Linked DNA regions of Homo sapiens. The protein of the gene in region 1 interacts with the protein of each later gene in a biochemical or structural test. Each region holds a gene or a part of one and is shown on either strand. Other genes may lie near its edges.

Region 1 (4,684 bases):
AAATTCTAGCCTGTAAAAAATTGTCAGATATTAAGTTTATTTCTCACAGACACCTGCCAGAGGACAGAAAAGTACAGTATTTCTGATGCTTATGTAGCAGTGACATTGGTGATTCTGTCTTTATCTTTTCTCTTTTCTAGCTCAAAAGCTAACTGTTTAGTACTTAGGAACGTATTTCTACATGTGTTTAAGTGCAAGAAACAGTCAAAAAAGATAAGTGGATATGTAAATAAAGTCTTCGTACAATAAGTTACTTCTTGTTCATCCACGCCAATAAGGAACTGGGATGTTTTGACACAATATCTAATAACTCAGAGTTAAACTTGATTTACTGATTTTTAAAGAATGAGAAAATAAATAAGTTTTAACATTAAAATGGCAATAAAATGATTCTGAAAGCTGTTTGGAATCCTAAGAGCACATGAAGGTTATCATTTATAATATTCATTACCAGAAAAAAAGTTTATTAATGGAAATAAATTACATTTTGAGTTTATTTGGGTAACTATGTCTTTTTCTCTATATTTAGCTCAGTAAATGTTGAAGTTTTTTGAGATCAAGATCCCTTCAATTCCAACATATGCTTAGTTTCCTGTAATAACTTTGAAACAAGTTTAATTTTAGCTTTTCTTTACAAATTTATGACTCATTACAAAGTGAAATTTTTATTTTTGATGAAAACAGATGCAAAGCAATAAAGTGACATAGGGCCTAGAGAAAATGGAGACTAGAATCCTAAACATTGTTCTCTCTGTAGGTTTTCAGGCCCTGATAGCATCAGGGGTTTGTTTTTTTAATAACATAAACTAGGCAAAATGGCAGCTGTGTTCAACAAATGATGCATATTTACTAAACAAAGCAAATGGAAATACCAGCTCTGAAGGAACAAGAACAGGTTCCATGACTGAAGGTGTCATATAACTGCCAAATCCAATTTGATTGGTAATTGTATCCATTTCCCTTCATCATCCCCCACATTTCTTTTCATAATTACTAACCTAAAAAAAGACTTTCTATTTTCTCCATTGATTTTTTTTTCCCCCAGCCTAGAATCAAACAGAAGTACTAATGAGTAATGAAATAACCTAAGGCAGACAACAGGGTAGAAAACAATGAAGTTGATTAATCAATCTGTCCTGAATAATCAAGAGGCTTTAATATTATCTGTGATAAATCTAAATGGTAGGAACTTTTTTCATTAAAGCAAGACTTAATTTTACCTAACCAAAAGAGTGTACATTCTAATTGACTTTGGGAGCAGTGTCTCTTGGAAAAGACGTTAATTACCACTCTGCACTGTCCTTTGTGATTACCTATCATTTGCCAAAACTTCCAACCAAGTTCAAATATAAAATGAAACAATTGCCACCTTAAAACCCTTTTCTCTTTCAGGGCCATTGCACCATCATGGGTTTTTTAAAAAGTCTTCTCCACTTACCTTTGATTGTGGACTTCTGCAAGACTCTGTGGCTTTCATTTATTCCTATGCTCACATGAGACTTAGTTCTATCTGTTGGTTTCACTTATCCCTTGTTCTGATGCCCAAATCTATATCCCTAGGTCTAATGCTTCACCCAGGCTGTAAGCCTTCATTCTCTCCTTTTTTTGAGGTCCCAGACTCCAAACCTTATCATCCTGTCTTATACTTACTTCTTAACCACCACACTCTGATTATTCTCCTTAGTGGTGCCTCTCAAATTTCTCTCCCACCTGATTTCTGTGGTGACCACTCAAGTCTGGGTCCTGGCCATCTGGCAGGAATGCCTGACATTTGTCATCTTCCTCATCCAGCTGGACTCCTGCACTGGTCTCCTGACTGTTGTTCCTGCCTCTACTCCTTGCCGGCTTCAGCTTATTCATCACACTGAAGCCACAGCAGTGTTTTCAAAACGTAAATCACACCATGACAAACCCTTCCTCAAAACCAAAGAAGAAACGATCCCAACCTCCTTTCCTGGGCTTATCATGCCCTGCATGACTGGCCAACCCCAAGTTCTTTGACCAGTCTTCTATCTCTCTGTGGCTCTTGCACTCTGCCCTGGACCATTGTAGTAGATTGCCAACTGGTCTTTTCGTCCAAATGTTTTTTCTTAATTCATTTTTTTTTTTTTTTGGTCAATTAGATCAAGCTGGTACTTCTCAGTCTATTAAAGAATAGACCTAATATTTTGTACCTTTATTTACTACTCACTATACCAATGCTCAACTTTAGTAATGTCCCTTTCTTCACCGTCCTATTCCTTCCATTCGTTTCTGCCTCCTCCCCCAACATACATCTTACTGTCATAATACTGTGTACTTCTTCACCTCCATGCCTCTTTCCTCATTGTGTTTTTCCACCTGAAGCACCATTTCCATTCGTTTTAGCACAAAGAAAATAGACTTTGACTTTCCCTTTCCCTGAGTATAGCTTTAAAACCTACCTTGGTTTCTGTCTTTAAATTCTTACATATGAATTGTCTCTGTTTTATGCTAATAAATTCTTTTGCAGTGAACTCTTATTTGCCAGTTGCTTCTAGCGTACTTGTCAATTCTCCAGGTATTTTAAGGCCCTCGAGAGTGGAATAGTGTCTCATGCTTGTCTTCTGGTAAACATACTATTTAATGTAAGACTAGGCAGACAGTAACTGTTGATTACTTGATTGAAAACTTGATGAATGTTACTTAACATTTTTTTCAAGCCTGTGTTTTTGGAATATTTAAGCCTTCTGTTTTTTTTTTTTTTTTCTCTTCTAGAAAGTCATTTTTTAAACAACACTCAACTTTGTGAACCCCTGAAGATTTTTTGACCGTTCCAAGTCTTAATGCCACACCACTATTCCAGCGAATTTATGCTACAACTGGTAACAATGACCAGAAGCCTGAAGAATTAAAATGCCAACACCAAACCTTTCCTTACCAGCTCTGGTCTATATTGCTCCCATGCATTTAATATATTATTTTGTTTTATAACCACTTCTAAATATTCTCAGTTCTTTCTTTTTGTTGTTGTTAATTAAGGGGTTTTGGTTTTGTTTTCTGTTTACTTTGTGTGCAACTACCTGCTTTTAATGACTCACTTTGATCAAATGACAGTGAACAAAGCCAGCCCAAGCTGGTAAGGTGCTGTTCACTTGAACAGGTGCTGTTGCGCAGAAAGGAAACTCTGTGACTAATTTAGATAGTGGCTTTCCTTCTTCTGGATTCTTTTCATTGAATTCTCACAGTAAATATTTACGGAGTTTTCAAATTGCAGCAAATATACTGTATGAGAAAATATTAATACAGATTAAAAGCCTTTCTTACATCTTGAAAATTTTCTAATATTTGAGAATTTCACAGGGATGTTTTTTATATTGGACCCTTTTGACTTTCCAGTCCTGTGACTTTCTACTTTTAGTAGAGAGTCAGAATCTCTGGACTGGAGAATAATGAAGAAGTTCACTGACTGTGCACTGTGCTTAGAGACCCTGCCGCACCACAGTGCCAATGCTTGTCAGACACATGCCCTTCGGCAGCATTCCAGAACAGGAGGGAAGAGAAAGAGAAAACTTTCTTCCCTTCTACTAAAAGATTCAGGCAGCTTAAAACCTTAGTGCTTTCTTTCTTAACATACCCACATTTCAATTCTTTCCATTATTTGAACACTTGGGTAGAACTCTTGCTTTGTATTAAACCTCTTTGTCTACACATGTAAAACTTACCTTTTGTTATTGAGCAGGCCTATCTCTTTCAGATAGTTTTATGATTCACACAGGTTTGAGGATGCTGGGGAGAGGGGGAGGGGGCTGTGGTGGTGTTCTGTTGGTTACAAGAAAGTTATACCATTTAAAGCTGGCACCAGAGACCCGATAGGGACTTATTAACTATATTGAACATTTTTTCCTTTGCCTTTGACCCTATGTATAGTTACGATGCCAGATTAGATTTATAGCAGCCTCAAGTTGTATTAAATGATATTTTGCTTCCTGTAATACTATTATAAAATAAAGTTTGTTTATTCTCTAAACTTGTCACTTCTCTTTTTCTAAAGGGTTAAAAAAACAAACTTGAGTGATATTTTTCATCAGAAGTCTTAGTATTTTGTGAAAAGTAGCATTTCAAAATCTGTTTTCAGCTCTTCTGTAATTTGATGATGCTGCCAACATCACTATTTGAAACGGTGAAAGCGACGTTGAAAGTTTGTAAATCTAATGTTGAGAGTGCCAGATTCCTTCTGCCTGGTTACATAATCCATTCCAGCTTTTACGAATTCTCCGAGGGATATTTTTGCTTGTTTTCTTTGTGCATTTTTCATTTTGTTTTCAGGAAATATTTTAGCTGTACCATCTGAATCTTGCTCCTCTGCTTCATGTCCTTCTTTACTTTGTGTCCACTGGCCCTCTGTATATCAGGCAAACTAGGCCACTGAGGGGCTGCATCCCAGTCTGATTGGGATGCTTTCTTGTGAAACTTTTGTTGGGGCACACCAGGTTATGGTGTTATTATAGAGCAAATAACCAACAGGGTACATTTCTTGTAAAGTGTTATATAGAATTTTTTTCTCTAGTCATTTAAAGTAAGTACATTAAATACAATTTGCATAACTGTCGTCTTTGAGATCTGTTTCCACTAAATTATCTCTCGCCTTGTGAAAGGCCTTTCTCACTTTCTCTATAATTATTACAAAAACAACAACTCCCTGGAGAATCCGATTCAGCAAGCC
Region 2 (7,285 bases), on another chromosome or scaffold:
CAGGAAGACGTCTCCCAGGGAGTCCAGGCTGCTCTCCAGGGGGGCCTGACTCCGAGCAGGGATGGGAGTGAAGTAGAGACTCTCCAGGGATTCTACCTTGGGGGGCAGGCGCTGGGAGATAGGTGAGGCTGGTTCTCCAGGGACGCTGGTGCCGTCTGGCTGGGTACGAGGCAGCTTGCTATGGAAAGGAAACCTGCTGAGGTACAGTCCTTCACGCTAGAAGGCATTTTGTCCAGCCCTTTTTGAAAGTGACCATTTCCCATCCTTACTACAAGCAGATGAGGTCAAGCAGCCCATCTCTCTGATTTTTCAGAGGTACCAAGGAAAGCACTTGACCTGGGCCTTCCTTTCAGTCCACTCCCCTGGCTTCTCCTAATAGCTCCTCATAGTGGCAATGCCCAGACCCAGATGTCCCATCCCCACCAGATGCCCATGGCTGCTTCACAGCAAACACGTCCCAATCTAAGCCCACTTCTCTGTTCTTCCTCCTGCATCTCCCATTTCAGTGAATAGGAACGCCCCCCACTCAGGCCCCCAAGCCATGAACGTGGGCATAATCCAATGTCGTCCTGCTTGGCGAGCCCAATCACCAAGCTTCCTGAACAGCTCCTAACCACACCCCACTCCATGCTCATGTCCTTTCCCTGGTCTGCTTCATCTCCTCTCACCTAGACTCATCATGGCACTGACAGAGGAAGATGAGTGGTGACAAGCCAAGAACTCAGGCCAGGCTGCCCAGGGTCAAACCCCAGCTCTACCACTGGGGAACCTTGGGCAAGTGACTGCCCCTCTATGCCCCAGATTCATCTGTTAAAGGAGACAGAATAAACCTACCTCAGAGGGTTGTTGGGGGACAAATCAGGTATAATTGTCATGAGTGCTTTATGTCTAGCACAAAATAAGTAAATGTAAGTGTTTAATAAAAACATTTTTCCAGTCTTAACTTCTATACTAGCTATTAGAATAATCTTTTTAAGATGCAAATTAACCATGTACTCTTCAGTTTCAAATTCTTCCAAGGTTCCTTTTTTTTTCTCCTAAACCTTTCAATTACAGCCACCAAGGTTTCCTCAATGCCTTTAGGATCAAGTCTTAATAGTCGGTCTCCAATGGGCCTTCCTGGCCTCACATCTCAGCTTAGTCAGGCTCTTTCACAGCCTCTGTTCACACTGCTCTTCTCGTCAACCTGGCACACACACCTATGGATGCTTTCAAGACTCAGCAGGAGCGATAGCTTCCACGAAGCCTTTCTTGACCACTTGCTTTTTATTCCAACTGTGCCCTAAATAGATATCTGGTATAATACCCGTTTTTCGTTATTCTTCTCTAAGAATAAATTTAGATCACATCTTATTTATCTCACTAGGATACAGCCTGATAAACAGCAGGCACTCCATAAACAGACATAGGGAGGAAGGCTGCCTCCTGACCTGGTGATACTGAGTGGGGTCCCCTCCTCGCAGCTCAGATCCAGGCTGTCAATACTCAAGTCCAGCTGGGGCTTAGCCTGGGGCTCACGGCTCTTTAAAGCATCAGTTGCCACCTGGAATTTGCCCAGGTCTCGAAGCTGCTGGTCTGCATGGGCAACCTGAGAAGGAGAGGGCCAGGGGGAGAGTGAAGAAAAGCCTAAGGCAGCAGTGGCCTAGGAGGAGAGGGCACAGGGGTCCAGTGGAATAGGAGTGAGGTGAGTCTGCCAGCCAAATTCTTACCTGTGCCTCCAGGCTGCGCACCTGGGCAGTAAGGTGGCGGCAGGTCTGTTCAGCCTCCTTGGTCTTCAGCCCAGCCTGCTGTAGCTCATGGCCCAGCCGTTCAGCTTCAGCTCGCAGCTCTTTGTTTTCCTTCTGCAGCTGCTCCAGGCTCCGCAGCTGCTCCTGCAGCTCTTGGTTCTGCTGCTTCTTGGCATCATAATGTGTTTTGGCTTTCTCCATCTGTGGGCAGAGAGGGTGGGTGGGTGGGGTAGAGGTTGAAGGGCAGGAGGAAGGTGGCATGGGCTGGGGCTGGGCTCCTTACCTGCAGCTTATAGTGCTCAGCTGCCTGCTCCTTCTGGCTCAACTGGGCTTGCAGTTCATTCAGCTGGGCCTGGAGGCGCTGGGCCTCCTGCTGGCTCTCGCCTCCCTGAGCCTGGACAGCCTGAGAAGAAAGGCCACTCAGGAAAGCTGGTCTGGCCGCTCTACCCAAGTCCGCTTATCTGCACCAGCCACTGGGGCTCCACAGGTGCTTCAGACTCCTGCACTTTCTTAGGAAGCGGAAGAAAACCACACCACCCCAAATACTCTCTGCCCGACTACAGTCTACTAAACCTGAAGCCCACATGCCCTTCAGTCCACATCCGTAGTGGCCTTTCCCTGACCAGCTCCTGCCCTATCTTTGCCTTCTTTGAGACCAGACACAAAGTGTCACACCCTCTTTGCATGCACAATCTCCCGTAGGAGGAAGGGAACCAATCCTCAGGGAACACCCAGGTGCAGAGCCTTACTCTAAGGCACTTGGCATGTGAGCTCTCTTAGGACAGGGGAACTTGTTTCTCCTCAAAGCCACTCTGAGAAGTCACTTCACCCTCTTTTCAGAGGAGGAAACTGAGTTCAGAGATTTAAGCAAATTGACCAGAGTAACAGTGACTAAATGGCAGAGTAAGATTTGGTCCACCTAACTCCAAAAGCCCATGGGGGCTTATTTATGATGCCCACACTGCCTCCTGTCCAGACCATAACTCCTTAAGAGCAGGGCCTGATTCTCTGTCCATCTGCAAGGCCAACAAGTGCTTTGCTGTAGATAGAAGCATCCCCCCTTTGCCTCTCCTAACATAGGACAGGCCCCACAAGGAGTAGAATAAACATTTGTTTATTGCAATCAAGACATGCTGTGGCACCATGGTATGAAGGTGAGCAGGAGAAATGAAGCTCTGAGCTCCCAACAACTCCTAGGAGCCACCAGGGCTTTAGTGAGTCCCAATGCCACTGGTGCCCAATTCCTTTGCCCCTGACTGAAGGCTGTGAAGCCTAGAACTGCAAAAAGCAAGTATTAAACCAAAGAAGGTGACACAGTTGAAAGCATTAAGAATGTTATTAAACTGCACTGTAATATTCAACACTGGTGACACTCTCGTTCTTTCCCTGCCCAGACTATCTAGACTTACATTGTCCAAAAGAACTTTATGCAATGGTGGAATGTTCTGTATCTGCGCTGTCCAATACAGCAGCCACTAACCACATGTAGCTACTGAACAGGGGCACAGTGTAGCTAGTGTGATTGAAGAACTGGATTTACTTTAATAAATTTCAATAACCACACGTGACTAGTAGCTGCTGAAGTGGACAGTGACAGTTGAGAGATGGGAACCACCCTGGTTGTCTCTCGAGAGCTCCCAGAAGACACATGCAGGGGCTTCTAAGCCACAGGCTTCCTAGGAGGGCTACCTGGAATGCAGGGTGCCCCTCTTCTGCCCCGACACCCCCCACGGCCCCAGAGCTTAGAGAATAGCTTCCCTCCCTTGTCCAGAGGCCAGACCCATTCCCCCAGCTGCCCCACCTTCAGCTTCTGCTGCTGCACCTTGCTGGCTTGGTCAGAGTCAGCCAGTTTCTTACTCAGTTCTTCCACCTGGGGAGGGAAGAGGAGGACAGAAGACTCAGGAGGACTTCCCCTGGATGTTCATCCTGGATGTCCACCCATCATGGGGTTTCCCAGACCAGGATCCCCAGTGTTCCTAGAATAAACTCAGGCCCTTTCTCTGGCCTCCAATTACGGAACAGCCTGCTGCCCAGGCTGCTTGGCAGGGCCTGAATGAGGCAACCTAACACATAGATGTTGCCAGGGCCAACTGTTCTTGCGTCTACCCTGAGCCTGCAGAGACAGAGGCCTGCCCAACCCCCGTCACCTCCAAAATCAGGAGAATTGACTCTGGGGAGCCGACACCTCACCACCACCTTGCTGCCGCCACACTCTGCAGCCGCAACCTTCCCAGGACCTAGTCTGTAATTCTAGTAGACATACTCAATGAATTCCCATGCCTCCCTCCCAGAAACTGCCAAAGCCCAAGCCCACAGATGCTCAGACCTCTTCCCAACATCCACAGGCCGTTAGGGCTGGTGCTAGCAGCATGGCTGCTGTGGTTAGCATTGGGGAACAGATTGCTGGAAGACAAGAGCAGGGGCAGCACATGTACTCCAAAGCCCACCCCACTCCTACAAAGAGGAAGAGCACAGGGAGTAGGGGAAAAGAGAGAACATAACAGCCCCATGCACCCTTGGCTGCTCCAAGCATTCTGGGAGTTCAAGCATGACCAGGCAGCACAGGGGAGAGGCAAGGGCTCCATTGCTAACTGTTTGCTATTCACTTTGATTGTCCCCCACTATCACAGGCTCCTTAGAGGAGGGCCCAATTTTTCAGCAGCCCTGGGGTGGCTGGGTAGGAGAGTGATGGAGAAAGGGTGCTCTATAGCCTCGATGTCTCAGAAACACCAGCTCTATAGCCTCGATGTCTCAGGCAACACAGAGATGATTCCCATGAGAAAGAGGCAGCCAGACCATGTGACCCCCACTCCCCCGCCCCCATCTGGTATAGACCCCTCCTGCTCCTTCACCCTCGGTCTTCCTGCTACAGACATCTCTATGCTGTGCTCGGGGTTAGAGCCCCAGAAAGTGATGGGCAAGTGTCCTAAGCCCACAATCCTCCCTAACCTGTGGGGGCTGCCTCGCATATCACCTTCAAGGCTTCCATAAAGCTGTACTCTGGGAAAAAGGGACACCATGTTAAACAAGGCCGACACGGTAATTCTGCTGTTCCTCTTAGTCGGGTATCCTTAACTAGACACAGTACTTGGGAAGTTCTCGAATCCCAAGGATTGTGTCTGTCATTGGTTCAGGGTGGGAAAGATGAAGCCAGTGCTACCCCTTGTCCCTGATAGGCAAATGAGAGAAGGTGCAGAAGGGTGGAGAGGCCGACCTGGGATGGGTGGGATGAGGCCTGAGAGAGCCCAGCACACCACACTCCTGGGCAGCCTGGGCCTGGATTCCATGGCTTGACCCTGCCCCCTTCACAAACAGTTCACAACAGGAGCTGGCGGAGGCAAGCTGCAGCCGGGCTCATGCACCAAGACTGGTCACCGTTTAAGCAGCCAGCATTTAGCGAGGACCTCAGGCATTACCTGCTTAGTTTGCTCTCTCTGAAATACCTCTAGCTGCTCCACCTGTACATGGGGGAGGAGCAACAGAGACAGAGTGAGATGAGGCCAAAGAAGCACCAGCCCTGCTGCCAGGCTGACCTCACTGAGGCTCTGATACTTTCCCCTAAGGAGCTAGATTGACAGTAAGTTTAAAAATGCCAGTTAGGCTGATTCTAATCCCCAGTGGCTCCTGAGGCATCCAGTGCAGGTGTGCCTCTGAACAGGCTGGTGGTCATCACAACTTGACTCTCTAGTGACAGAGCCTTCAGGGGAGGGGAGGCCACTGACATTTTCTTTAGGATGACAGGGGCAACAGACTTGAACTCCACCAGCCACCTCTCCTTTTCTGCCACCCAGTGAATGAGGAAAGGCAAGACACTCCAGTGTAGGAGCTAGAGGCCCTGGACACAGAGGATCGATGTCCCCGCGCTCTCAGCTCCTGATCTTTGGGAGGGTGGTTGGGCTGAGTACCTTACCTGGGCAGTGAGTTTCTGCCTCTCTTCCTGGAACCGCTGCCTCTCCTCCAGGACCTTGACCTTGGCACCCTCATACTTGGCAGTCATCACCTCCAGCTCCCGGGCAGTGCTCTGTGCTTCTCGCTGCACCTCAGCCAGACGGGTCTCAGCATCAGCACGTACGGCTGCCAACTCTTGGACATACTTCTCCCGGGCCTGGTCCAACTCCACTTCCAGAAACTGCCGGCCAAGGTTGGCCCGCTCACCCAGCCCCCGGTTCTCCTCTGCCAGCAGGCCATGCGCCTTCTTCAGCATGCTCAGCTGCTCTGCATAGCTGGCCTTCTCTGCCCGCAGCTGCTGAGCTGTTCGCTCCTGCTCTGCCACCTTCTGCCGCAGAGGAATCAGCTCCCCAAGCTCCCGCTGGGCCCGCAGCAGCTCTGCCCGCAGTCCCCCAGCGGCCTGCTTGCTCTGCTCCAGCTCCTCACGGTGGCGTTTCTCGGCAGCGGCCTGCTCGGCCTGCAGCTGCTGGCAGAGGTGCTTAGCTGGCAGCAGCTCACTCACCAGGGCCTGTGTGCTGGTGTGCTCGAGCTGCAGGGTGGAGAGGGCCTGCTCTTTCTGGAAGAACTTCTCCTGCCACGCCTTCAATTCTTGGCCCAGCTCCTCCGCACGCTCAGCCTGTGAGGTCAGCTCCTGCCGCAGGTTCTCTGAAGCCACCCGCTGTTTCTCAGCCTCCTCCCGGAGGCTCTGCACCTCCTCCCGCAGAGCAGAGCTGCGTTCTGCAGCTCTGGCACTGTTGCTGGCTGTCTCTGCCTGCAGCAGGCGCAGCCTCTCCTCCAGCTTCTGGCTCTTCTCTGACTCGGCCATCACCAGCCGCTTCAACTCCTTGCTCTCCCCCTCCTTCTCCAGGACCTGGCGATTCAGGATGGACACCTCCTCCTCCAAGCTGCTGATGAGGCTATTTTTCCTCTCAGCCTCTTGCCGGCCCCGGGCCACCTGGGCCTTCCACTCATCTTCAGCCTTGCTGTGGTCTTGTACCTTGGTGCGGAAGGCAGCCAACTCCCGTTGGGCCGAGGCTAAGGCACTCTGACTGTGCCCTAGCTCCTGGGCCTTCTCCTCTAACTGGCCCTGCAGAGTCTCCAGAGCACTGTCCCGCTCAGCCCGGGAGGCCCGCTCAGCCTCGAGGCTGCGTTCCAGGCTGTCAGCCTGCTCCTGCTGCTTCTGGCATTGCTGTTCCAGCTTGCTCACCTCTGCCCGCAGTGCCTCCAGCTTGGGGCCTGTTGGCTCTGTCCTGCCAGCAGCCTCAGATTGGGCTCCTGAGCCAGATGCGTGCTCCTTTTCTTTCTTAGCCAGCTGTTCCTTCAGTTGCTTCACGGTTTGCCGAAGTTCCTCCAGCTCTTTTATCTGGGCTGCCTCCAGACCACGAAGCTTGGCCAACTCCTGGTCCTTGCCTTCCTTTTCCGTCAGGGCATGAGCCAGTGCCTCTTGCAGGGTAGCGAACTCCACACGCTGCTCGTTGAGGGCGTTCTGCAGCCGCATCTCAAGCTCTGCTCTGGCCGCCTTCTCCAGGGCAAGGTCAGCCTGGGCACGGCCCCGCTCCTGGGTCAGCCGCGCCACCTCCCTTTCCTGCTGCCCACGCTCCTCCTGCTGCTGCCCCTGGCTCTCCATCAGC

Evidence for each region.
Region 2: the proteins of EPB41L2 (region 1) and NUMA1 form a complex in vitro, tested with the Homo sapiens proteins (one study listed by BioGRID).

Annotation. Positions count from the first base shown.
Region 1 is NC_000006.12:130,838,651-130,843,334, reverse strand, and holds the end of EPB41L2 (band 4.1-like protein 2), read left to right. Parts: intron 1-2,736; 3' UTR 2,737-3,988; downstream 3,989-4,684. UniProt on the Homo sapiens protein: Required for dynein-dynactin complex and NUMA1 recruitment at the mitotic cell cortex during anaphase.
Region 2 is NC_000011.10:72,007,258-72,014,542, forward strand, and holds part of NUMA1 (nuclear mitotic apparatus protein 1), read right to left. Parts: coding exon 5,638-7,285; intron 5,186-5,637; coding exon 5,144-5,185; intron 3,598-5,143; coding exon 3,529-3,597; intron 2,131-3,528; coding exon 2,011-2,130; intron 1,929-2,010; coding exon 1,710-1,928; intron 1,589-1,709; coding exon 1,431-1,588; intron 944-1,430; exon of another isoform or gene 889-943; coding exon of another isoform or gene 835-888; exon of another isoform or gene 179-834; coding exon 1-178. UniProt on the Homo sapiens protein: Microtubule (MT)-binding protein that plays a role in the formation and maintenance of the spindle poles and the alignement and the segregation of chromosomes during mitotic cell division.